Homo sapiens: one gene and its partners. The protein of the gene in region 5 purifies or fractionates together with the protein of the main gene of each other region. This does not show direct contact. Each region holds a gene or a part of one and is shown on either strand. Other genes may lie near its edges. The genes, in order: DPM1, CDH3, PPP6C, ZNG1C, ELK1, PADI4 and TMEM33.

Region 1 (3,500 bases), on a different chromosome or scaffold from region 5:
GAAACCCCATCTCTATGAAACAAAAATTAGCCAGGCATGGTGGTGCAGGTCCACAGTCCCAGCTACTCGGGAGGCTGAGACAGGAGAATTGCTTGAGCCCGGGAGGCAGAGGTTGCAGTGAGTTAAGACTTTAACCCAGGTCTGTCTGAAATCAATCTTAATTAAAATTACACTATAATTATGGGGAGAAACCCTACATATTTAGACCAAAAGTATAGAACAGGTCACATAAATTAAAACTGAAGGTCCAGTACAGTAACTTTTGCTGAATGAGACCATTTCTACCAAAGGTCCAAAGGTTTATGCTGATTTTTCCTTAATAAAAAACATCCAGGCTCTAATCACAGGAAAAACTGTAAGAAACTATCTGGGAGTATTTACTGGAAGTTATAACCTGATCCCACAAATCCCGGGCAGCATGATAGCTAATCCAAATACTTGCTATGAATACATTTCCAGTAGTTATACTAATAAAGAAGTTGTAACACATGTACCTACCTGATTATTTTTCTTTTCAAATCCCAGCCATATACACCTCCATTTCCTTTGTAGCGAGTTCCAGAGACAATATCAAAATTACCCTCCTTTTGCTTCCTGTAGAATAAATTAGCTGTCAATTAGAAAAAGCCACTGAGCTTTCAACAGTCATTTTCATGAGCTACACAAACAAAACTTTTAAGAGAAGTCGACACAGGCTGGGTGCAGTGGCTCACGCCTGCAATCCTAGCACTTTGGGAGGCCGAGGCGGGTGGATCACGAGGCCAGGAGTTCAAGACCAGCCTGGCCAAGATGGTGGAACCCCATCTCTACTAAAAATATAAAAATTAGCCTGGCGCGGTGGCGGGTGCCTGTAATCCCAGCTACTCAGGAGGCTGAGGCAGAGAATCACTTGAACCCAGGAGGCAGGTTGCAGTGAGCTGAGATCACGCCACTGCACTCTAGCCTGGGCAACAAGAGTGAGACTCCATCTCAAAAAAAAAAAAAAAATTAGTCGGGCACAGTGGCACATGCCTTTAGTCTCAGCTATTTGGGAGGCTGCAATGGGAGGATGGCTTGAGCCAGGGAGGTTCAGGCTGCAGTGATCTGTGATTGTGCCACTGTACTCCAGCCTGGGTGACAATGGAAGACCTTGTCTCTCAAATTAAAATAATTAATTTTCCCAATACCCTTCCATTCTGTTCTTGCCTTCTTTGAAGCAAATAATACTAAAAACAGCCTGATGTCCTGCCACACTTTTCTTTGCCTAGAGAAAGATAAAGACAAACATACACCCCTAGGATTTTTGGTTGCATTTACAAAATTGGGATGCAAAAAAAGTACATTTTGTGACCTGGTTTCTGTCAGTTAACAATACATATCATGGGGTCAGATGTGGTGGCACACGCCTGTAATCCCAGCACTTTGGGAGGCCTAGGCAGGTGGATCACTTGAGGTCAGGAGTTTGTGACTAGCCTGGCCAACACAGTGAAACTGTCTCTACTAAAAATACAAAAATTAGCCAGGTGTAGTGGCACGTGCCTGTATTCCCAGCTCCTCTGGAGGCTGAGGCAGGAGAACTGCTTGAACCCGGGACGTGGAGGTTGCAGTGACTGAGACTGCGCCACTGCACTCCAGCCTGCATGACAGAGTGAGATTCCATCTCAAAACAAAAACAATGCAAATCATGGAATCATAGACATCCCTACAGGTCAAGAGAGCTCTTTCCCATTCTTTTTAATAATTGCAAAACTACTTCATAGAATATTCAACTCACACACCTCTGTGGTTGTTTCCATGGTGCCCTACCCTCTCAACCACAATAAACAGTGCTACAATAAACTTTTTTTGTTTTGTTTTGTTTTTTTTTGAGATGGAGTCTCGCTCTGTTGCCAGGGTGGAGTGCAATGGCGCCATCTCGGCTCACTGCAACCTCCACCTCCCGGGTTCAAGTGATTCTCCTGCCTCAGCCTCCCAAGTAGCTAGGACTACAGGCGAGTGCCATCATGCCCGGCTAATTTTTTGTATTTCTAGTAGGGACGGGGTTTCACCATGTTGGCCAGGATGCTCTCAATCTCTTGACCTCATGATCCGCCCGCCTCAGCCTCCCAAAGTGTGGGATTACAGGCATGAGCCACTGTGCCTGGCCACAATAAACGTTTTTATAAATGTATTACTGCTTAGACTCCCCAAAATGGAATATACTGGAATTGCCCAAATGAAGCCTGAGTATTTTTTTTTTTTTTTTTGAGATGGAGTCTCGCTCTGTCGCCCAGGCTGGAGTGCAGTGGCGCGATCTTGGCTCACTGCAAGCTCCGCCTCCCAGGTTCATGCCATTCTCCTGCCTCAGCCTCCCGAGTAGCTGGGACTACAGGTGCACACCACCATGCCTGGCTAATTTTTTTGTATTTTTAGTAGAGACAGGGTTTCACCGTGTTCACCAGGATGGTCTCGATCTCCTGACCTCGTGATCCGCCCGCCTCGGCCCCCCAAAGTGCTGGGATTACAGGCGTGAGCCACTGCGCCCGGCCAAGCCTGAGTATTTTTAATTCTAACACATATTTTCCCAAATTTGAACACATATTTTCCAAAAGGGTTATAGCAACTTATACTTCCTTCAGCAATATTTGTGTGTCCATTTTTTACCATCTTATTGGTACTGGATATTACTACTGCTCTAAAAGTTTTTAACTTTGTTAAACTAATGGATAATAAAATGGTCACACACAGTTATTTTGTGTTTATTTCCTTGACTACATCCCAGGAAGAACGTCTTCTTTTATTAGCCATTTGGATTTCTTCTATAGATGGTCTGTTTGTATCTTTTTGCCCATTTTCTACTCTACAGGTTAAAGAGGCTTTTGTATACTGGAGATATAACCAAAAAAGGTCTAAGGTGACTTTACGCAGAGATTGAAGGATGAGCAGCAGATGGTCATCAAGGAGCATGGAAACAGCATTTCAGGCAAAGGAAAATGGAACTCTGTGAACTCAGAAGCATGCTATGGCATGGAAAGCAAAAAGGAAGGAGCACAAGGCAGAGGTCAGAAAGGGAGGCAGGGGCCAACAAACACATAGGGGCTTGAGGGACAAGGGAAGGAACTTGGATTTTTCCCTAGATGTTAGTGGGAACTCCCTGAACTCCCTGAACTGGAGGGACAATAATCTGATTCTGTTTTTATGTATCTAGCTTAAACTCAGAACAGCTTCCAAAATCTTATTCACAGAGGTTTTGTGGTCTTTTGGGCTAAGAATTTAATTATATTGCCTACAAACAAATATAACTGTGTATATTTTACTAACATTTAACTAAATTCTTATCTTACTGTATTAACATTTCCATGTTTAATGATAGCTAGCATGCCTGTATTAATGCATGTATTGGAAATGATTCAGCATTTCACTATTTGGTGTGGTATTTGTATTAGGACTGGGTTATTTTTATTATGCTTAAGAGGTTTCCTTCTATTCTTAAAGTTTTAACTAGAAAATGGTAGTAAATAATATCTCCTTTAGCATCTACA
Region 2 (3,483 bases), on a different chromosome or scaffold from region 5:
AACCTCCACCTCCCGGATTCATGAGATTCTTGTGCCTCAGTTTCCCAAGTAGCTGGGATTATAGGCGCCACACCCAGCTAATTTTTGTATTTTTAGTACAAAAATGTGTGTGTAGGCCGGGCACGGTGGCTCACGCCTATAACTCTGCACTTTGGGAGGCCGAGGCGGGCGGATCAGGCCAGGCTGGTCTCGAACCCCTGACCTCAAGTGATCCACCCACCTCAGCCTCTTAAAGTGTTGGAATTACAGGCGTGAGCCATGGTGCCCAGCCCCAACTTCATTTCCTTTTGGTTTCTCCATCCAAAGTCTGAGGCTTCAGGCTCCTTGGCCTCATCCTTCAGAGTCTTGGCAGCAAACCTGAGTGTGCAGGAGCATCCCACGGAGGGCTTGTCAACCCACAGCAGGGCCCTGCCTAGAGGTTCCGATTCAGCAGGTGGCACCGATAACTCCGGTTCAGGGTCTGTGCTTTGAGCAGAGACGCTTTACAGAATTAGTCATCCTCATGGAAGGAAATGTTTATTTCAACATCAGCAATTTCCTCAGCTTCACTTCAGATTCTTTTGGCTAATTGCAAAGATGACTTTGAACTTCACGTTAACAAGGGCACAAACAGAATTGTTCTATCACTGCTGCCTATTCCTGATTCCTGCATTTATGCCCTGGTATTGTCAGGAATGTTCCAATTTCACTGACATCTTGGGTAGGTTCTCTTAATTTTGTTTTGCTTGATTTCGATGATGACCAGATGTCATTTAAAAAAACAAATACAATGTGGCCATTCTTTAAAGGAGAAAGTCCCCTCAGAGGGTGATTGTGAGGATTTAGAGGAAATAATCGAAGTCCTGTCTGGCCTTTAAAAGTACTGAATAAATGGTAGCTGTTACCAACTAACAGATTGCATGGACCATGTGCCAGATATTAATTCACTTAATCTCCACAAAAACTCCCCATTTTGTAAATGTAAAATCTGAGGCAACTGGAGGTTAAATGATGTGCCAGCGCTGGGCGCGGTGGCTCAAGCCTGTAATCCTAGCACTTTGGGAGGCCGACGTGGGCGGATCACGAGGTCAGGAGATCGAGACATCCTGGCTAACACAGTGAAACCCCGTCTCTACTAAAAAAACACACACACTCAAAAAAAATTAGCTGGGCATAGTGGCAGGCACCTGTAGTCCCAGCTACTCGGGAGGCTGAGGCAGGAGAATGGCGTGAACCCAGGAGGCAGAGCTTGCAGTGAGCCAAGATCACACCACTGCACTCCAGCCTGGGCGACAGAACGAGACTCCGTCTCAAAAAAAAAAAAAAAAATGTGCTAGCAAGTAGCAGAGCTGGCTGTTCCCCAACCCCTGCCTTTCAACAGGGACCCCTCCAGCATAGAAGAGGAAGTCGTCACACACTGTCCTGCAGGGAGGGCAGCCGCTGTTCCAGAAGAGACCTTGCTGGGGCTGTGGAGGGGCTCAGCCTTGGGGTAAGAGGTTAATGGTTCTCTCTCATGGAGCAACTGACTTTGCAAAGGAGGGCAAGTCTCCCCTCCCTGAGCCCACTTAGGCATGGAAGCTGACCCTGAGTATCCCCTGCCATTGAGAGGAAGCTTGGGTGAAGCCAGCAGGGTAAACAGAGCCCACTCTTTTTGCAGAACTCTGAAAATTCTAAAAACCATTGAATTGTAAACGTTAAACAAGTGAATGGTATGGTATGTGAGTTAGATGCCAATAAACCTTCTATTTAGAAAACAGTTCACTCCCCAGGCACCTCTGGGAAAAGTTTCTTTAATAAAAAAGTTCTAGTACATATACACGATTGTCCTCACCCTTCATCTATAGCAACGCAACAGGGAAAATAAAAAATAAGGGGCAACCTAGGCACACTCAGTATAAAAACGCAGAGATCCATCCGAATGGGAGGCATTGGGGTCTGGAAACCAGAAATGCAGGACGGCCAGTGGGCCCAGCAGCTCTGGGCTGCACTTTTGAAGAACTTTCTCTAACGTTTTGAAGATAGCATTAAAAAAAAAAATTAAGTTGCACCAGGAGGCCTAAGAAGGTTCCATTCCAGAGAGAAAGTCCACTGTAGGTCAGTCACAGCAGGCCCAGGCCCAGGACACAGGGTTGAGCATTTTACGGCAGGTAAGAGGCTTCTGGAAACTTGGCCTCTGAGGCAACCCTGGCCCAGGTGGAGAGGTTTTCAGTGCTGAAGTCAAACTGCCCACATTCCTCCATCCTGAAAGGCTAAGGAAGCCACCACTCTAACGTCAGACTCATAGCCTGTCTCCGCCAAGTTGCTACGGCCACTTCCTGACAAGCTCCGAAGTCCTCAGCTGAAGGGGGAACTGAGACCCCTTGGAGATGCTCTGTGGCCTGACGTTTGGTCCCCAGCCCTGCAGGCAGGCCGCCTAGTCGTCCTCCCCGCCACCGTACATGTCTGCCAGCTTCTTGAAGCGGCTGCCCCACTCGTTCAGATAATCGTAATCTTGGTCTTGGTCGGAGGCGGAGGAGGTGAGGGAGCTCAGGGACGCGGCGTCGGAGCCGCTGCCCTCATAGTCGAACACCAAGAGGGTGTCGTAGGGCGGGGCTGTGGGGTCTGTGTTAGCCGCCTTCAGGTTCTGCGGCAACAGAGAACAGGTAGTTAGGAGCGGCGGGTCCTGCCTCTTGCCAGCTGCAAGCCTCCATTTCCTCTCTGTGAGCCCCTCTCTCCCCTCCCCTAAAGGTTTTGGAGGTAGAAATGAAAGAATGCGTTATTCATGCAGAATTCATTCACTCAGGGACCAGCAGACAGCAAGTGCTCAGTGCAACACAGGCCAGGGGGTAAGGGCAAGGACTGAAATCAGACAGCCCGGGCCAGAACTCACACCACACACTAGCTTTGTGGCCTTGGGCGAGTCCCTTAACCACTCTATGCCTGTTTCCTTGTCTGTAAAATGACAATAGTTTTTTTCTTCCTTTTTTAAAGGATGCATGCCTGTGACACAGCCTCGGGAGGTACTGAGGACATGTGCCTCCGTATAGTTTTAAAGGAACAGATGAATGAGTAAATGAGTAAATACCTGTAAAGCAGTTATTAGAATAGCACCTCGCAACAATAGCTATCATTATCTAATAAGCGCTACATGCTAGGTCAGTAGTTCCGAAACTTAAATTATCTGGAGAATCTTTTATAAATTCTGAAGCCCAGGCCACACCCAGTTCAATTATATCACAATCTTTGGAGGTGAGCTGAGGCATCAGTGGTTTCTGAAGGTGCCCAGGTGATTCCAACACGCAGGCAGGGTCGGGAACCACTGTGCTGGCACTGTCCTAGCTGCCTGCTCGTTCAATCCTTGAAGTCTTCTACAGCAGAGGCTCCAAACTTTGCCCCCCAGGTGCAATCACCTGGGATCTATAATCCAAACCCAGGTAGTCTGGCTCCAGAGTATTCAACTGCTATATGTGTTGAATAAATGAATAAATCATTCCTAATTTTTTTTTTTTTAAAGATGGAATCTCC
Region 3 (3,500 bases), on a different chromosome or scaffold from region 5:
GATGTTCAGATTTCTTCAGTTTTACTTGTGTTTGTGTGTGTGTGTGTGTGTTTGTGTGTGTGTGTGTGTGTGTGTGTGTGTGTTTGTGTGTATTCAGTTCTTTGCAGTTTTATTGGGTAAGGGCTCATGTATCCAACTCTATAGTCAAAATACAGAACAGGTCCATCATCACAAGAATTCCTCATGTTGCCCTTTTATAGCCACACCCACTTCCTTCCTGCAACTGCTGGACCCCTGACAACAACTAATCCGTTCTCCATTTCTTTAATTTTGTCATTTCAAGAATGTGTAAACACGGCCGAGTGCAGTGGCTCAATGCCTGTAATCCCACCACTTTGGGAGGCCGAAGCGGGCAGATCACCTGAGGTTGGGAGTTTGAGACCAGCCTGACCAACATGGTGAAACTACTAAGAATACAAAAATTAGCTGGGCATGATGGTGTGTGCCTGTAATCCCAGGTACTTGTGAGACTGAGGCAAGGGAATCACTTGAACTGGGAGGCAGTTTGCAGTGAACTGAAATTGTGCTACTGGACTCCAGCCTGGGCAACAGACCAAGACTCTGTCTCAAAAAAAAAGGGAAAAAAAGAAGGTTATATAAATGGAATTATACAGTATATAACCTTTTGGGACAGTTTTCTGTTGTTTCATTTTTTTCACTCAACATAAATGCCTTGAGATGAATCCAGGTTGTTGTGTGGCAGTATTCGTTTCTTTTTATTGCTGAGTAGTATTACATGGTGTGGATGTACCAAAATGTGTTTAACCATTCACTCATTGAAGGATATCTGATTTGTTTTTAGTTTTGGGCTATGATGCATTAGGCTTCTGCGAGTATTTATATACAGATTTTGAACATGTTTTTATTGCCAAGACTACAGTTGCTGGGTCAAATGGTAAGTGTGTGGTTTGCAATTTATTTTTTAAATTACCAGATAAAAATCTTTTACTGGCTGGGCACGGTGGCTGACGCCTGTAATCCCAGCACTTTGGGAGGCTGAGGTGGGTGGATCACCTGAGGTCAGGAGTTCAAGACCAGCCTGGCCAACATGGTAAAACCCTGTGTCTACTAAAAATACAAAAATTAGCCGGGTGTGGTGGCACATGCCTGTAACCCCAGCTACTTGGGAGGCTGAGGCAGGAAAATTGCTTGAATCTGGGAGATGGAGGTAGAAGTGAGCCGAGATCGTGTCACTGCATTTCAGCCTGGGAGACAGAGTGAGACTCCGTTTAAAAAAAAAAAAAACAAAAAAACCCAAAAACCTTTTACTGTTAAAATTATTTCTTCATATATATATATATATATATATATATATATATATATATGTGTGTGTGTGTGTGTGTATATGTGTGTGTGTGTTTGGTGAAAAACATCATTTTACAGTTCTTGTAAAGCTGTCTGTCTCCTAGAACCTTAGTGTCTCTGTAGGTAGTTTGCATTGCATTAAGAATTCTGTGTGACAGCTGACAGAAATCCAACCCCCGAATTATCACAGGGTACTTTCCTATCAAAAAGTATACTTGGGTTTTGTAAGTATTAGACCTGGTATTTTTCTTTTTTGGTATTTTATCTTTAGTTTTAATGTTGTAGTAAATGTTTACCTTTTATTTTCTCTTTTTATAGCGGCTATGTGACTACGTTTGTGACCTCCTCTTAGAAGAGTCAAATGTTCAGCCAGTATCAACACCAGTAACAGTGTGTGGAGATATCCATGGACAGGTAAAATTTCATGAGCAGATTTTTAAGTTTTGTACTGTCCATGATCCATGTGTGTTTTCACATGTGCTGCAAAATTAAAACAACAACAACATCAACAAACACAACTGGTGGTAAGCTAGGTTGCCTCAGTCTCTGTGACACAAATGATTCCTGGTTTACATTTTTGGTGAATAAAAGCAGTGGTCAAATTAGTGATGGAATTTGTTGATAATTACATTTGTGAAGTGAATAATGCAGCATTAGTTTTCTGTGGAATGGTGGGGTTGGGGGTAGGTAGAAGATATAAAGTACAAACACATACTGCTCATAATAACTATGATTAACAGGAGATGTTTTGGTGTTAGGCACTTTTTTCATTCAGTTCATTTCTGTTCTCCTGTCATATATTGTTGAAAATTTATCATTTCTTTAGTGGGAATGAGAATAGCAAAGGTACAGAAAAATAAAATTGTTGGTCCATGATGTCACAGCAAATCACTGATGAATGAGCTAGAAAATATTTAGCTCAATTTTTCATCTGCTGGGTGTTTGTAAGAATTTCAAAGCAGTGCCGGGCGTGGTGGCTCACACCTGTAGTCCCAGCACTTTGGGTGGCTGAGGCGGGTGGATCGTGAGGTCAGGAGTTTGAGACCAGCCTGACCAACATGGTGAAACCCCGTCTCTACTGAAAATACAAAAAAATTAGCTGGGCATGGTGGTGCGTGCCTGTAATCCCAGCTACTCAGGAGGCTGAGGCAGGAGAATCTCTTGAACCCGGGAGGTGAAGGTTGCAGTGAGCCGAGACCGCACCACTGCACTCCAGCCTGGGCAACAGAGCAAGACTCTGTCTAAAAAAAAAAAAAAGAATTTCAAAGCAGTAACAGGAGGGGCATACCTCATATTTAGATTCTGTTGTCAGTGTTTAGTCTCATGTATATTTGTAGAATTTTTTCACTGGGAAATGAAAGCTGAACAGATTACTCATAGAGTGCTATATGCATACAGTGTAGTTGGGGCCATAAGACTTAATAATACATTGCAAACAATGTAGTCTTTAAAGGATGCCAACAGGACTTACTGTCACCTGTGCAATTTCCCTGCTTTAAATATGACTGTGTAAATGAGCAGAAATGTGTGTAAATTGACTCTGATTAGGGGCTGCTCCATGAGTAAAGTCTTGTTTTGGCTACTTACTTACAGGCTGATTTTCTTTTGGTTTTTCAAGGTGTTTTCTGGATTTTTTAGATTATAAAAAAATCTGACACTTGCATGTCATCACCTCCTAGATGGAGGTCCCATTATGTCATCTTTGATTGTTAAAATTACAGTTCTTTAGAGTAGACTTTAGGAATTGATTTCCTAAAATTTCCATGTAACTTCTCTCTCAAACATTTGTATTTTGCTAACATAAAGGATATTAATATAAGCAGTGTCTTAAGACATTCCTGAAAACTGGAATAAACCAAGTCATGTTTTCCCCCAGTGTAGTGTAGAAGTTTCTATGTAACTTCTCTCTCAAAGTAAACATTTGTATTTTGCTAACATAAAGGATATTAATATAAGCAGTGTCTTAACACATTCCTGAAAACTGGAATAAACCAAGTCATGTTTTCCCCCAGTGTAGTGTTTCCCCCAGTTGTAGACTTTTTAAGATGTGAAGTACAGCCATGATCAAAGGTCAGAAAGTTAGAGACCAACCTCGAACTACTAAAATTGGAAGCATAAAATTGAACTTTTGTATTATATATACCTTCAGTCAAATGTGCAGTTCTTGCTAACATATATCTTGTGTTTTGAGGTTA
Region 4 (3,500 bases), on a different chromosome or scaffold from region 5:
AAAATTTATTAACTATAGTAGTTTAATATAATAGCTAAAGGGACACTGATATTAAACACCATATAATTCTATTTTACATTAGGATGCAAGGTTTTAAATTCCTTTTTTCTTATTTTATCAAAAGTGAAGGAAAATCCTTAATAGATTACATTTTGGTTGTTCAAGAAAGTCTGTTATAATTTTATCCTTGCCAAAACATTTGACACAAAGTCAAATACCTAAGGGAGTAAATGATGCCGAAGAGATTTAATTCACTAGAATACACAAAATTAACAATACAAGTAGTCATTTTTATAATTCATTCAACAAATATTTGAGTGCTACTATGTGTTGGGTAACTCTTCTAGGGTCTATGGTAGACTAGTGATCACTGTCCTTGGAAACTTAACTACTAGAACATAATGTAAGGTTTTTCTTTTTTGATAGTCATTTATTTTTTATAAGGTTGAACACTTAGAAGTATGACCAATGACAGATTAAATTCAGAATAATCATTTTTTACATATGAGACTTTCATGCACTAGAGATTAAATAAGCCCTGACATCAAAAGCAATAAAAACTCAATAAAAGGACCAAAACATTAGAGCAGATAGAAAAGACAGCAAGAAACACTTTAAGAAAATGCTTCCTAATAAGTTTATTTTCTATTTGTTTGAAAATACAATGAAGCAAACTGTGTAAATTCAGTTAAATTACTCAAGAAAATTAAAGCTGGAAATATAATCAATAAACATTTCTAGTAAACCATGTACACAGTAAACACATTCCTCACTTCACTGAACAGCAGAGGCAACCGTTTCTAAGTTCCAGCCACTCTTCATAGAGCTCTCCACCTTGGCTGACAGCTAAGGATTTCTCCAGCGCACTTCCTAGAATAAATAACAAACAGCACTCTTTAGCTTATGTCCATTAGCCAACAAAAAACAAAGATGAGGATAACTCAATAATGGAGATCTTAAAGCAGAAACTGCATTTTATAACTTATATTCTTTCACTTTATTCATGCAGCCTTGATACCTAAATTACAGTACACTACATTATTTTAGCTTTTATTTAAGATGTCTTAAGCCCTGAAAAAGACACATCCTAAACTGATAAACATACCTACTTCCTCCTTAGGCCTCTTACTTGGCCACCCCCATTTCTTAATGAAGGCATTTTTTTCTTGTCCAGGGTAAACTTTCTAAATCGACTAGTATGTTTTATATACTGGATTCTGTATGCCCTTCAACCTCTTAAGAGACTGCCTTATCTTTTTCTTTTCATTCTTCTTCTAAATTGTTTCTGTTAGACAAACTGCTGAATATTCCCAATGAGTAAAAACCCTAGTTCATCCTGAGGAAGGTTTTTGGCCAGTGTACCATGTGCTCATTTAAAAATTAAACTTATAGGGAGGCCAAGGCGGGCGGATAACGAGGTCAGGAGATCGAGACCACCCTCGCTAACACAATGAAACCTCATCTCTACTAAAATTACAAAAAATTAGCCAGGTGTGGTAGCGGGCGCCTGTAGTCCCAGCTACTCAGGCGGCTGAGGCAGGAGAATGGCGTGAACCCGGGAGGCGGAGGTTGCAGTGACCCGAGACTGTGCCACTGCACTCCAGCCTGGGCAACACAGCGAGACTCCATCTCAAAAAAAAAAAACCTAAACTTTTAGTCAAATTCACATATTTTCCTAGCAATACTTACTTAAGAAAGAATAAACTATATTTGAAATGCTTGTTATCTATAAGAATTATTTTAAATGTTTTACTTTTCCTCTAATAAAGAAATATACCAAACGGTGAAGTTCTAAAAGTCCACTAAGCAAATGAGCTCCCATAAAATCGAGTAGTTTTACACTTACATATTTTTTATATTTCAGCTAGGTATTAATAAAGAGCTTCTAAAGAGGTTGCTACAGAATTCGGACTATATACAGAACATTAATGAAACATGAAGAAAAGTATTGAGAATGCTGTGAAAAATAAAATTGTGAAAATGATCCAGGAAAAAATAAAGAAAATAGTAAGAATAAATGTAATCAGTGTGCAATAGGTTATTTAATAAGATGATGAAAAAAACAGTCTGTTATTAGAAATCTCAGGATTTTTGCCTAAAAAGCACTTTTCTCTTTAGTTTATTAAAATCAGAAATCGAATATAACTGGAATATAACTGGCTTCCCATCCTGTTCATAAAACCTAGCTCTTTTACTTTTTACAACTGAAAAAAATAGTACATTTTAAAAGAAATCGTCTAATAGATATTGTTTTTTGGCTAGAAGTGAGCTTTGATTACAATTCATACTTATGAAGAAAAACTCCTATAAAGATAACAGAAGTATTGTGTCTAGAGCTATTTTTTTTTACTACAGTTTAATATTTGAGTTGAGAAGTTAAGCACACTTATTTTCACAGATAAAATACATGAGGATAAAGACCATATGTTTACTTTCTTTTTAAAATATTGAGTTTTAACTGCATTGCAGATAATAAACATTAAACAAAGTTAACTAATAACAGAAGCATTTTCAAATATTTTTCATGAGTTGCAATAGAGTCCATACAAAACTGCCTTTCTAATTCCTAAAAAAGACATTTTTTGGCCAGGCATGGTGCCTCACGCCTGTAATCCCAGCAACTTTGGGAGGCCGAGGCGGGTGGATCATAAGGCCAGGAGCTCAAGACCATCCTGGCCAACATGGTGAAACCCTGTCTCTACTAAAAATACAAAAATTATCTGGGCATGGTGGCGCATGCCTGTAGTCCCAGCTACTCGGGAGGCTGAGGCAGGAGAATCACTTTAACCCGGGAGACAGAGGTGGCAGTGAGCTGAGATTGCACCACTGCACTCCAGCCTGGCAAGAGAGAGACTCCATCTCAAAAAAAATAAAATAAAATAAAAAATAAACGTTTTTTCATATGTCTAGATTTTTACTTCTGGAGTCATTTATTTCATGTAAAAATGTAGTTTAATTCTGTTAATAAGAATTCCAAAGTTATACAAAATAAAATTTTATTAAAACTAATTTCAGTATCTCAACCCATATAAATCTTAACAGAAATTAATCTAATTTTTCTAAAGCTATCCACATCAATACAATACCTTGCATTTTCATTTTTAAATATGGAATATCAATTCACCAGAGGAATAAACAGTCACACAAAATCTTGCAACATGACATTTATTGAACTTTACTTACCTTCCCCAGATTCATTTAAAATGACCGCTACTCTTTTACTATGTTGCTCTGTCAAAATATAGTTCAGAAGTGTTGTCTTCCCAGCACCTATAAAACATATTTTTTGTAAATAAAAAAATTCAAAATAATTTTAAAGATACAAAAAACATATAAAGAATCCTAACGTTTTTGAGAATTTGCATGCTATTTTTCATATATTATTTTAGTATAGAATATCCTAGAGGATAAGATTAAAGCATCCTTTGAAACCTGTTGCAAAATACTTTATGTAGACATAAAATTTTATAAATATTTACAAACACTCCTACAAGTTGAAA
Region 5 (2,771 bases):
CGGAGCCTGGAGGCCGGAGCCACTTCCCGATCCTGGGGTCCGTTCGGGTCCCGGCCCACCTAGCAGGCTCGGGCTGAGTGGAAGCTCTAGGTCCCGGGGCTTCCGGCCCTTCTGCGGCTGGGAGATCTCAGGGCTGGAAGCCGCATGGCCGCCCGCCTGCCCTGCGGTGTCCATAACAACCGCGGGCAGCCGGGCTGGCACGCCCTCCTGTGGAGGGACTTCTGGCTCGGCCTTGGTGGTTTCTGGCACAAACCCTCTCTCCCCCGCAACTTCCAACTCTTCCTTGGGCCCTTCTACTTTCACTTCTGGGGGCAAAGCCCGGCCCAAACCCGGCTCCACATTAAGCTCTTCCGATTTCAGGTTTGGGGCCTCGGGCGGGGTCAGGATGACCTGGTAGAGGAGCAGGCACAAAGAGGGTGTGTAAGGATTGTTGGGACCACAGGATTCTCCTGTGGGCCACCCAGTGATTTCCCCGGGAAGGTGGCACTTGGTACTCAGGGCATGACTGCACATCAGAGCAAGTCCTCCAACAGGACATAGGACTTCGTCAAGGAAGTAGGGCTTCCTCTGGGGCAGGTCCTCCTATGGGACAGGGGACTTGGGGTGAGACAACCTGAAGCGGGTAGGAATCTGAGGGATACCATCCTCATTCATTAAAACAGTGGTTCTCAAAAATTTACCTTCCTCTGGACCAGCAATATCTGCCTCATTTGGTAACAAGTTAAAAATGCAAATTATTGGGCCCCTCCCCAGCCCCACAAATTCAGAAACTCTGGGGGTGTGCCTGGCAATCTGTGGTTTAACAAGACCTACAGGTGATTCTGATGAGCACTAGAGTGCGAGAACCAGTGCATTAAACATATTCCAGGCACCTACATGTTCGGCAGCTACTAACTGTAGCACAGTATTCTCCCCTTTCTGTCTCAGGATTTGTGTAGCTCTCTGCCCCACCCCTCCTTCTAAGAGGATGTCTTCCTTCCACCATTATCTCCTTTAACGGGACAGCTATGTCTCTTCTACCAGCCTCCCTCGTCATCCGGGGATTACACATCCCTCCTCTTTACTGCCTCCTCTTACTGAATTTCTATATTCCAGTCCTTACCTGCAGAGGCAAGCCGGCCTCTTCAGCCTCCAGACAGGCCTCCAAGGGGCTTGGACTGGTGCTCCTGCTCCCCGAGGGGGGCGCTGCTGCCCCTGCAGGAGCTGCACTGGGGAGCACCACAGCAGGCCGAGGATGAGGGGGTGGCTGCGGCTGCAGAGACTGGATGGTGAAGGTGGAATAGAGGCCCGAGCGCATGTACTCGTTCCGGCTGCTGCGTGCCAAACCGCCTGGGCCTGCCATTCCTGCACCCTTGGGTGTGCCTGGCTTTCCAGAGACAGTGTCCCCTGGGGCGGCATGTATAGCAGCAGGGGCCACATTTGGCATGGTGGAGGTAACAGACACCTCTGGCTGGGGCGGGCAGTCCTCAGTGGAGCACCCTGCGACCTCAGGGTAGGACACAAACTTGTAGACGAACTTCTGGCCGCTCACCTTGCGGATGATGTTCTAGGAAGGGAGGAGAGGAACAGAGGGCCTTAGAGGAAAGGGGCAGGCTGGAGGCAGGGTGTCAGGGGGGAGGAGGGGGGTGGAGTGGCATTTCTCTTCTCCTAGTGGCTTTCTTCCCACTTGCTCCTCTCCGGCTTTCCCGTCCCTCCTCTGTAAGTTTCTCTCTCAGCCCATTTCCTCTCCCATTGGTTTCTACCTCTTTCCTCTCCCGCCAGATTCCCCTTATCTATATCCCTCCCCAGTTCCTCCCCTTTCTCTCTTCTCTCCACAATAATTTTTTCTTTAAGCCCCTTCCCATCCACCCCTTTCCAAGCCTCCCTTTGTCACTCTCCAGGTCCGTCTATCTGATTTTCCCACTCCCTCCACACTGTAGCTCCTCTTCACAATGGGGCCCATGAAGGGCAGTAGGTGTGGGAGCAGGTCTTCTTCCTGGCTCCAAGAACCAGAGGTTCACAGGGCCAGGCCTTGTGGGTGACTGTCAGGACACAGTTTTGGAGACTAGCAAATGCAATAAGACAAGAAAATGAAGTAACTGATATAAATGTTGGAAGAAAGTAAATTAATGTAGATGGATGGGGTGATGAATTATTAATACAGAGGATTATTTGAAGCTAATGATACAGAAGTGGAACAGGGCAAGGTCACTGCAGAGGAGAGGGTGAGGAGGCCTCATTATTAATACCACTGTGGAGGTTGAAGCTAAAATGGTAAGAAAATGAAGTAACTAACAGCAATTAGACAAGAATATTAAAAATACTGGTATAAATATTGGGAGGGGGCCTATATCAAGGCTGGCTTTGCTGGGTCACAGAGCATGTTTGGGGTTTTTCAGGTCTGGTGGGTCTCAGAGATGACCTAGTGTTCCCAGAGGGCAGAGTGAGATAGCCTCATTACTAATATTGTTCTGGAGGGTTGAGCTCAAGGAATAAAATATGAAAATGGAATAAATGCCATAAACTATGAAGGGTGTGCAGCATATGACCAGGGCAGTTCTGGGAGTGTGGAGGCACTAGGGCATTCTGTGGAAGTCTTAGTGCTGGTCAGATATGTCACAGGGTGGGCCTGTGTTTCTCGGAAGAGGAATAAAAAGGGATATTCATGAATATTGTTTGGGAAATTTCAGTAGAAGGATTAAGAAAATGAAATAACTGGTATAAATATTGGGGGGAGGAGAAACCCAGCAGTGGCCTGGGGGTCTGAGAGGGCAGGATGGGGGAAATTTTAA
Region 6 (2,154 bases), on a different chromosome or scaffold from region 5:
TAACAGGATCCCTGGGTGTTCTCTGAATATCTTGGACCCTTTTGAGCCAATATCTGGTCTCAATTTTAATGATCTCAAGCCATCAAGTTTTATTTTCTACAGAGGAATCTGAGTCTTTATGTCGAAGCCATAAAAGGCAATATAAAAAAGAACACCGAGGAGATGAATTACTTCATTCCACAAAAATCCATCGCTATCAGTACGTAGGTGAATGCCCAGTTGTAGGTGAGTTTAAAGAGGGATATGCCCAGATTCTCAGCGGGGCTTACCCCTCCCCTGCTCCCTCCTCCTCCTCTTCTTGGAAAGGTCCCGTGGGAAACTCAGAACGAACTAGGATCATGCAAAATTTTATAGCCCAAATACATGTCTGGGAGCAAAAGACACACACAATAACGTGGCCTTCAGTGCAGCCTGTTAACACTTTTCAGTTTGTTTTGTGATAGTCAATTCAACCATGACAAATGAGTGAATGAATGAATGATACCAACAACATCTTGACCTCATGTACAAAGTGACTTAAAAAAACTTTATTGCAGCTTCTTAGAGCAGAACTGAGTGTGCAGTGCTAGGACCATGTTGGGATCTTCAGAGTGGGAAACTGGGACATCACAGGAGAAGAAAGCAAGCCACTGCTGGGAGGGCTGGCCGCCCCCAGGGAGCCACAATATTCACAAGAGCTCTTGCTTGCCACACTGCAGAGGACCCAGCGACATCTGGCCAGGAGGGAGAGGACGCCAGGGAAGATGGGCTCAGGGCACCATGTTCCACCACTTGAAGGAGAAGGGCTTTCTGCGCACGTTGGTGCCGCAGTGCACCTCCCCATGCCTGATGTGGTAGGTGAAGAAGTCGTTGATGAAGGTGCACTGGAGGCCCAGTGGCTCCAGCAGGGAACACACCTTCTCCTCCAGGCAGCAGCGGCCGTTGATGACGGGCCCGAAGGGCTTGGGGATGCCCAGGTGCTTCCCTAGCACCAGCATGTTCACCTGCAGGGAAGTGAGGGTTCAGGTCACAGGCAGCAGCGGGCAGCCTGCAGCGCAATCTGAGCGGCCCCACCCTTCTCTGACCTTTGGAAATAATAGCCCCTCCAGGGGTGGTGGCTCAGACCTGTAGTCCCAGCACTTTGGGAGGCTGAGGCAGGAGGATCGCTTGAGCCCAAGAGTTTGAGACCAGCCTGGGCAACATGGTGAGACCCCATCTCTAAAAAAAGTATTTTTAAAAATTAGCTTGGCATGGTGGTGCGTGCCTGTGGTCCCAGCTACTTTGGAGGCTGAGGGAGGAGGATCACTTGAGCCCAGGAGGTCAAGGCTGCAGTGAGCTGTGATTGTGCCACTGCACTCCAGCCTGGCAGCTTGGGCGACAGAGCGAGACTCTACCTCAAAAATAAAAATTGCTGGGTGTGGTGGCTCATGCCTGTAATCCCAGCACTTTGGGAGGCCTAGGCGAGTGGATCACCTGAGGTCAGGAGCTCGAGACCAGCTTGGCCAACATGGGGAAACCCCGTCTCTACTAAAAATACAAGAATGAGCCAGGTGTGCCTGTAATCCCAGCTACTTGGGAGGCTGAGGCAGGAGAATTGCTTGAACCCAGGAAGTGGAGGTTTCAGTGAGCCGAGATCATTCCAATACACTCCAGCCTGGGTGACAGAGCGAGACTCTGTCTCAAAAATTAAAACAAAATAAAAATAATAGCCCCACTTTACAAATGAGAAAACTGAGACCCAGACGTGGAAAATTGTTTGCCTAAGGCCACCCAGCTATACTTGGACTACAGCTATTAGACTCCAAGTTCCATACTCTTATTTATTTTAAATTTAAAAATTTAGATTTGGGGGTACATATGCATATTTATTACATGGGTATATTGATTACTGGTGGGCACTGGGCTTCTAGTGTATCCATTACCCAAACAATGAACATCGTACCCGATAGGTAATTTTCCAGCCCTCACCTCGCTCTCATTCTCTCCATTTTGGGGGTCCTCAGTGCCTATTATTTCCATCTCTGTGTCTATGTGTATCCACTGTTTAGCTTCTACCTATACGTGAGAACATGCAGTATTTGATTTTCTGTTTTAGTTCACTTAGGATAATGCCTCCAGCTCCATCAGGTTGCTGCAAAGGACATTATTTAATTTTTTTTTTTTTTTTTTTTTTTG
Region 7 (3,500 bases), on a different chromosome or scaffold from region 5:
AACAAACACTCCCCTCCACCAAAAAAATTACACTGGCTCATCAGTAAATCTAAACAGCCTATACTAATTATTGTTCTTGGTTAAAAAACACAATTACAATATCCCAAGAATTATATATATGTTTATGAAATACCAGGTCTGGAATTCTTCCCTAAGAAAAACTATCTGAATTAAGACATTCACTGAAATAACTACAAACAAAATGTGGCAACAACCTAATGTGAACTGTAAGGAAGTAGAATTGAACAACTTATATTATGGTTATTTAATGGATTTAATATGCAACTACCTAGAATCTTGGTTATGAAAATTACATAGCAACTCTGAAAAAAGCAGAATATAAAACTACACATATTATTACAATTGTATTTTTTTAAATTGGAAGAAATATATTAAGATGCCAAATGTGTTTTATTAGGTTTTTTAGCCTTTTCTTCTAAATTGTATCATTTTCATTAAAAAAAATTTACACGATTACGAACTTACCACTAAACAAATGCAACATCCATTTTCCCTAATAATTTGACAAATTTTTATCTTTTTAAAGTGAAAATGTAAGAGACACAACATAGAAAATATAAATAGAAAATATTCACTTAAAAAACAAGTTTCCCATCATCCAAGTTAGCCCCTTCCTCAAACTTATACCACAATCTCGAATATGTCCTTCCAGAAATGTATATATACAAGTGTATATAATGACTAACATTGATAGTGCTCACTTTATAATTCACTAAATCTGTTTAACAACTCTAGGACAGAGATGGTTTATCATTCCCAAAAAACTGAGACAGAAACGTCTATGTCCTTACACACATACACCCCACTAAATATAAATGGAGAACACCCTACACAACTAAGTTTAACTTATTATATCTTGGTGATTATCCCATATCACAACACATAAATTACCGCAATCTTTTTTACAGCTTCAAATATACCATCTAATGCTTGGACTATTATGTAACAAACTCCGTACTAATGAATATTTGGGTGGCTCCAGTCAATTAGAAGAAAAGCCACAATGATCCTTTTACCTGTCTTTGCACACATGTGCAACGCATGTGTAAGATAAACTCAGACAATGCATCAATTTTTAAATACAGAGCTTGAAGCATTACTGGCACAAATGTAACTTGATAAAGCCTCCTAATATTAGACTGTGTGTATACCAGAAAGGGTAGCATATTAAGAATAGCAGTAATGTAAGACTGTTCTTAATTTTATTGTTTAGGTCATATTCAAACTACCTACTTAAGGCATTAACAGCTTTTCCTAATAGGAATTAAGTACCACTTTATAAGCTGATTTTAATTTTTCAAACAAAATTATTTCTCTATTTAAACATTTCTGGTAAATTCTCATCTTTTTTACAGTAATCTTAAAAATTAAGATGGTAAGTTTGTACAAATAAATGTTTAAATTAAACATTTAAGGAGCACAATTGAATTAATGTACCAACGCAGTCAAAACCTGGTGCTCCTAACAAAAAATTCACTATAGTTCCAAAGTGAAGTTTTTGTCTAAGTTTGCATGGCATCTCAGAATTTCATTAAAATTATTTTAATCTGATTTAAGAGGAGCATAAGAAATTATTTTGCTTACTAAACAGAATCTGGAGGTTTCAGGATATAGACATCAATTATACCCATACAAAAAAACTAGTCTCGGTATCTATCTTTTTTTTTTTTTTTGAGAGGGAGTCTTGGTCTGTCGCCAGGCTGGAGCGCAGTGGCACGATCTCGGCTCACTGCAACCTCTGCCTCCAGGGTTCAAGCGATTCTCCTGCCTCAGCCTCCCGAGTAGCTGGGACTACAGGCACACACCACCAGGCCCAGCTAATTTTTGTATTTTTAGTAGAGACGGGGTTTCACCACATTGGCCAGGATGGTCTCGATCTCTTGACCTCATGCTCTGCCAGCTTTGGCTTCCCAAAGTGCTGGGTTTACAGGCTGTGAGCCACCGTGCTCGGCCTGGTATCTACCATTTTAACTTTCATCTAGTTACATGAAACAAATCACAGAACCTGTGATCCTGACCCAAAAGCAGGATTAAGTGACACAAAAACCCGAGAAAAATGAATAACAAAAGGGAGCAAAAAGTTCCTCTTACTAATTAATAATTAAAGTTTCTAAGTGTAGATCAGGATCACAAAAGAAAGAGGTGGAAAGAAAAACCTATAAATGATGGAAAAAATATTAGAATGTTGATGTTGTCCCTTTTTCTGCTGTCCCAGATTACATTACCCTTTTCTTTTATATGCTTTCAGCTTCTAGGATAAGAGGATGCTTTTATTAAATTTTAGGGTCAAGGTTTTAGAGTTAATTTACAAATACAACTGCATCAAATCTAGTTGGGACCATACAACTTAAGCAACACCAGCCAGTCCTGGAGTTCTCAGAAGAAAGCACTACTTAAAAGAATGAAACAGATATATATTTATAAGGAAATCTATAAAACTCTGTTCTTAGTTTGAAGAGACTGCTATAGAAAGAAGTAACTGTCAAGTACATGAAAACTTTACTAGTTAATCAAGGCAAGGTACATTTAAAATTATAAAATATAACTATATGATCAATAAGGACATTTGTTACAAACTAACAAAATTATGAAAAACAGGTAATACAGACATTTTAAAGAACAATTTAGCATGGTCCATTAAACACAAAAGGCACCTAGCTTGTACTAGCAAAATCAATTCTGGTATCTATGTTAAAGAAAACACTGGCATTAAGTATAAGCAGGTAAAAAATATTTACTGCATCAATATTTGGAAAACTGAAAATTTGGAAACATATTCCATGATCAGGAGATAAGTTGGAATGTTATACGGCTAAAAAAAAAAAAAAAACAGAACTGGATATGCCAAATCAATTAGGTTATGAAAACATACAAGTGGGAAAAAGGTACAGAATAACACTTTTTTTTTTCCTTTTCTTTTTTTTTTTTTTTTTTGGTGAGACAGAGTCTCACTCTGTTGCCCAGGCTGCAGTGCAGTGACGTGATATGGGCTCACTGCAACTTCCACCTCCCAGATTCAAACAATTCTCCTGTCTCAGCCTCCCGAGTAGCTGGGATTACAGGTGTGCACCACCATGCCTGGCTAATTTTTGTATTTTTAACAGAGACAGGGTTTCACTATGTTGGTCAGGCTGGTCTTGAACTCCTGACCTCAAGTGATCTGCCCACTTTGGCCTCCCAAAATGCTGGGATTACAGGCATGAGCCACTGTGCCCAGCCAGAATAACATCTTTGATGTAAAATAAGAACTAAACAAATTAACAAACAAAACTCCACATCCATAATATATATGTTCTACAAATTTGTATAAGTATTTTTAAAGGACTACATACATAGACACATATTAAACTCCTTACACCTTTGGGAAGAGGACAAAATTGCAGCAAGAATTCATATAGTCAAATGCTATTTTAGCTTTTATCTGTAATGTCTCATTACTTGTAAAACTAAAAATTGATAAAGCAATCATCTGGGTAGCA

The links.
Region 1: the proteins of ELK1 (region 5) and DPM1 purify together in Homo sapiens (affinity purification with mass spectrometry; one large-scale study listed by BioGRID and IntAct). This does not show direct contact.
Region 2: the proteins of ELK1 (region 5) and CDH3 purify together in Homo sapiens (affinity purification with mass spectrometry; one large-scale study listed by BioGRID and IntAct). This does not show direct contact.
Region 3: the proteins of ELK1 (region 5) and PPP6C purify together in Homo sapiens (affinity purification with mass spectrometry; one large-scale study listed by BioGRID and IntAct). This does not show direct contact.
Region 4: the proteins of ELK1 (region 5) and ZNG1C purify together in Homo sapiens (co-immunoprecipitation; one large-scale study listed by IntAct). This does not show direct contact.
Region 6: the proteins of ELK1 (region 5) and PADI4 purify together in Homo sapiens (affinity purification with western blotting; one study listed by BioGRID). This does not show direct contact.
Region 7: the proteins of ELK1 (region 5) and TMEM33 purify together in Homo sapiens (affinity purification with mass spectrometry; one large-scale study listed by BioGRID and IntAct). This does not show direct contact.

The regions. Positions count from the first base shown.
Region 1 is NC_000020.11:50,941,533-50,945,032, forward strand, and holds part of DPM1 (dolichol-phosphate mannosyltransferase subunit 1), read right to left. Parts: exon of another isoform or gene 2,825-3,500; intron 595-2,824; coding exon 499-594; intron 1-498. UniProt on the Homo sapiens protein: Transfers mannose from GDP-mannose to dolichol monophosphate to form dolichol phosphate mannose (Dol-P-Man) which is the mannosyl donor in pathways leading to N-glycosylation, glycosyl phosphatidylinositol membrane anchoring, and O-mannosylation of proteins; catalytic subunit of the dolichol-phosphate mannose (DPM) synthase complex.
Region 2 is NC_000016.10:68,697,310-68,700,792, reverse strand, and holds the end of CDH3 (cadherin-3 isoform 1 preproprotein), read right to left. Parts: intron 2,701-3,483; coding exon of another isoform or gene 2,626-2,700; exon of another isoform or gene 2,603-2,625; coding exon 2,393-2,602; 3' UTR 501-2,392; downstream 1-500. UniProt on the Homo sapiens protein: Cadherins are calcium-dependent cell adhesion proteins. They preferentially interact with themselves in a homophilic manner in connecting cells; cadherins may thus contribute to the sorting of heterogeneous cell types.
Region 3 is NC_000009.12:125,169,304-125,172,803, reverse strand, and holds part of PPP6C (serine/threonine-protein phosphatase 6 catalytic subunit), read left to right. Parts: intron 1-787; exon of another isoform or gene 788-856; coding exon of another isoform or gene 857-895; intron 896-1,623; coding exon 1,624-1,719; intron 1,720-3,500.
Region 4 is NC_000009.12:68,244,983-68,248,482, reverse strand, and holds part of ZNG1C (zinc-regulated GTPase metalloprotein activator 1C), read right to left. Parts: intron 3,271-3,500; coding exon 3,184-3,270; intron 871-3,183; coding exon 774-870; intron 1-773.
Region 5 is NC_000023.11:47,637,793-47,640,563, forward strand, and holds part of ELK1 (ETS domain-containing protein Elk-1), read right to left. Parts: intron 1,547-2,771; coding exon 1,103-1,546; intron 391-1,102; coding exon 1-390. UniProt on the Homo sapiens protein: Transcription factor that binds to purine-rich DNA sequences. Forms a ternary complex with SRF and the ETS and SRF motifs of the serum response element (SRE) on the promoter region of immediate early genes such as FOS and IER2.
Region 6 is NC_000001.11:17,362,351-17,364,504, reverse strand, and holds the end of PADI4 (protein-arginine deiminase type-4), read right to left. Parts: intron 984-2,154; coding exon 750-983; 3' UTR 501-749; downstream 1-500. UniProt on the Homo sapiens protein: Catalyzes the citrullination/deimination of arginine residues of proteins such as histones, thereby playing a key role in histone code and regulation of stem cell maintenance.
Region 7 is NC_000004.12:41,945,429-41,948,928, reverse strand, and holds part of TMEM33 (transmembrane protein 33), read right to left. Parts: intron 1-3,500. UniProt on the Homo sapiens protein: Acts as a regulator of the tubular endoplasmic reticulum (ER) network by modulating intracellular calcium homeostasis. Mechanistically, stimulates PKD2 calcium-dependent activity. Suppresses the RTN3/4-induced formation of the ER tubules.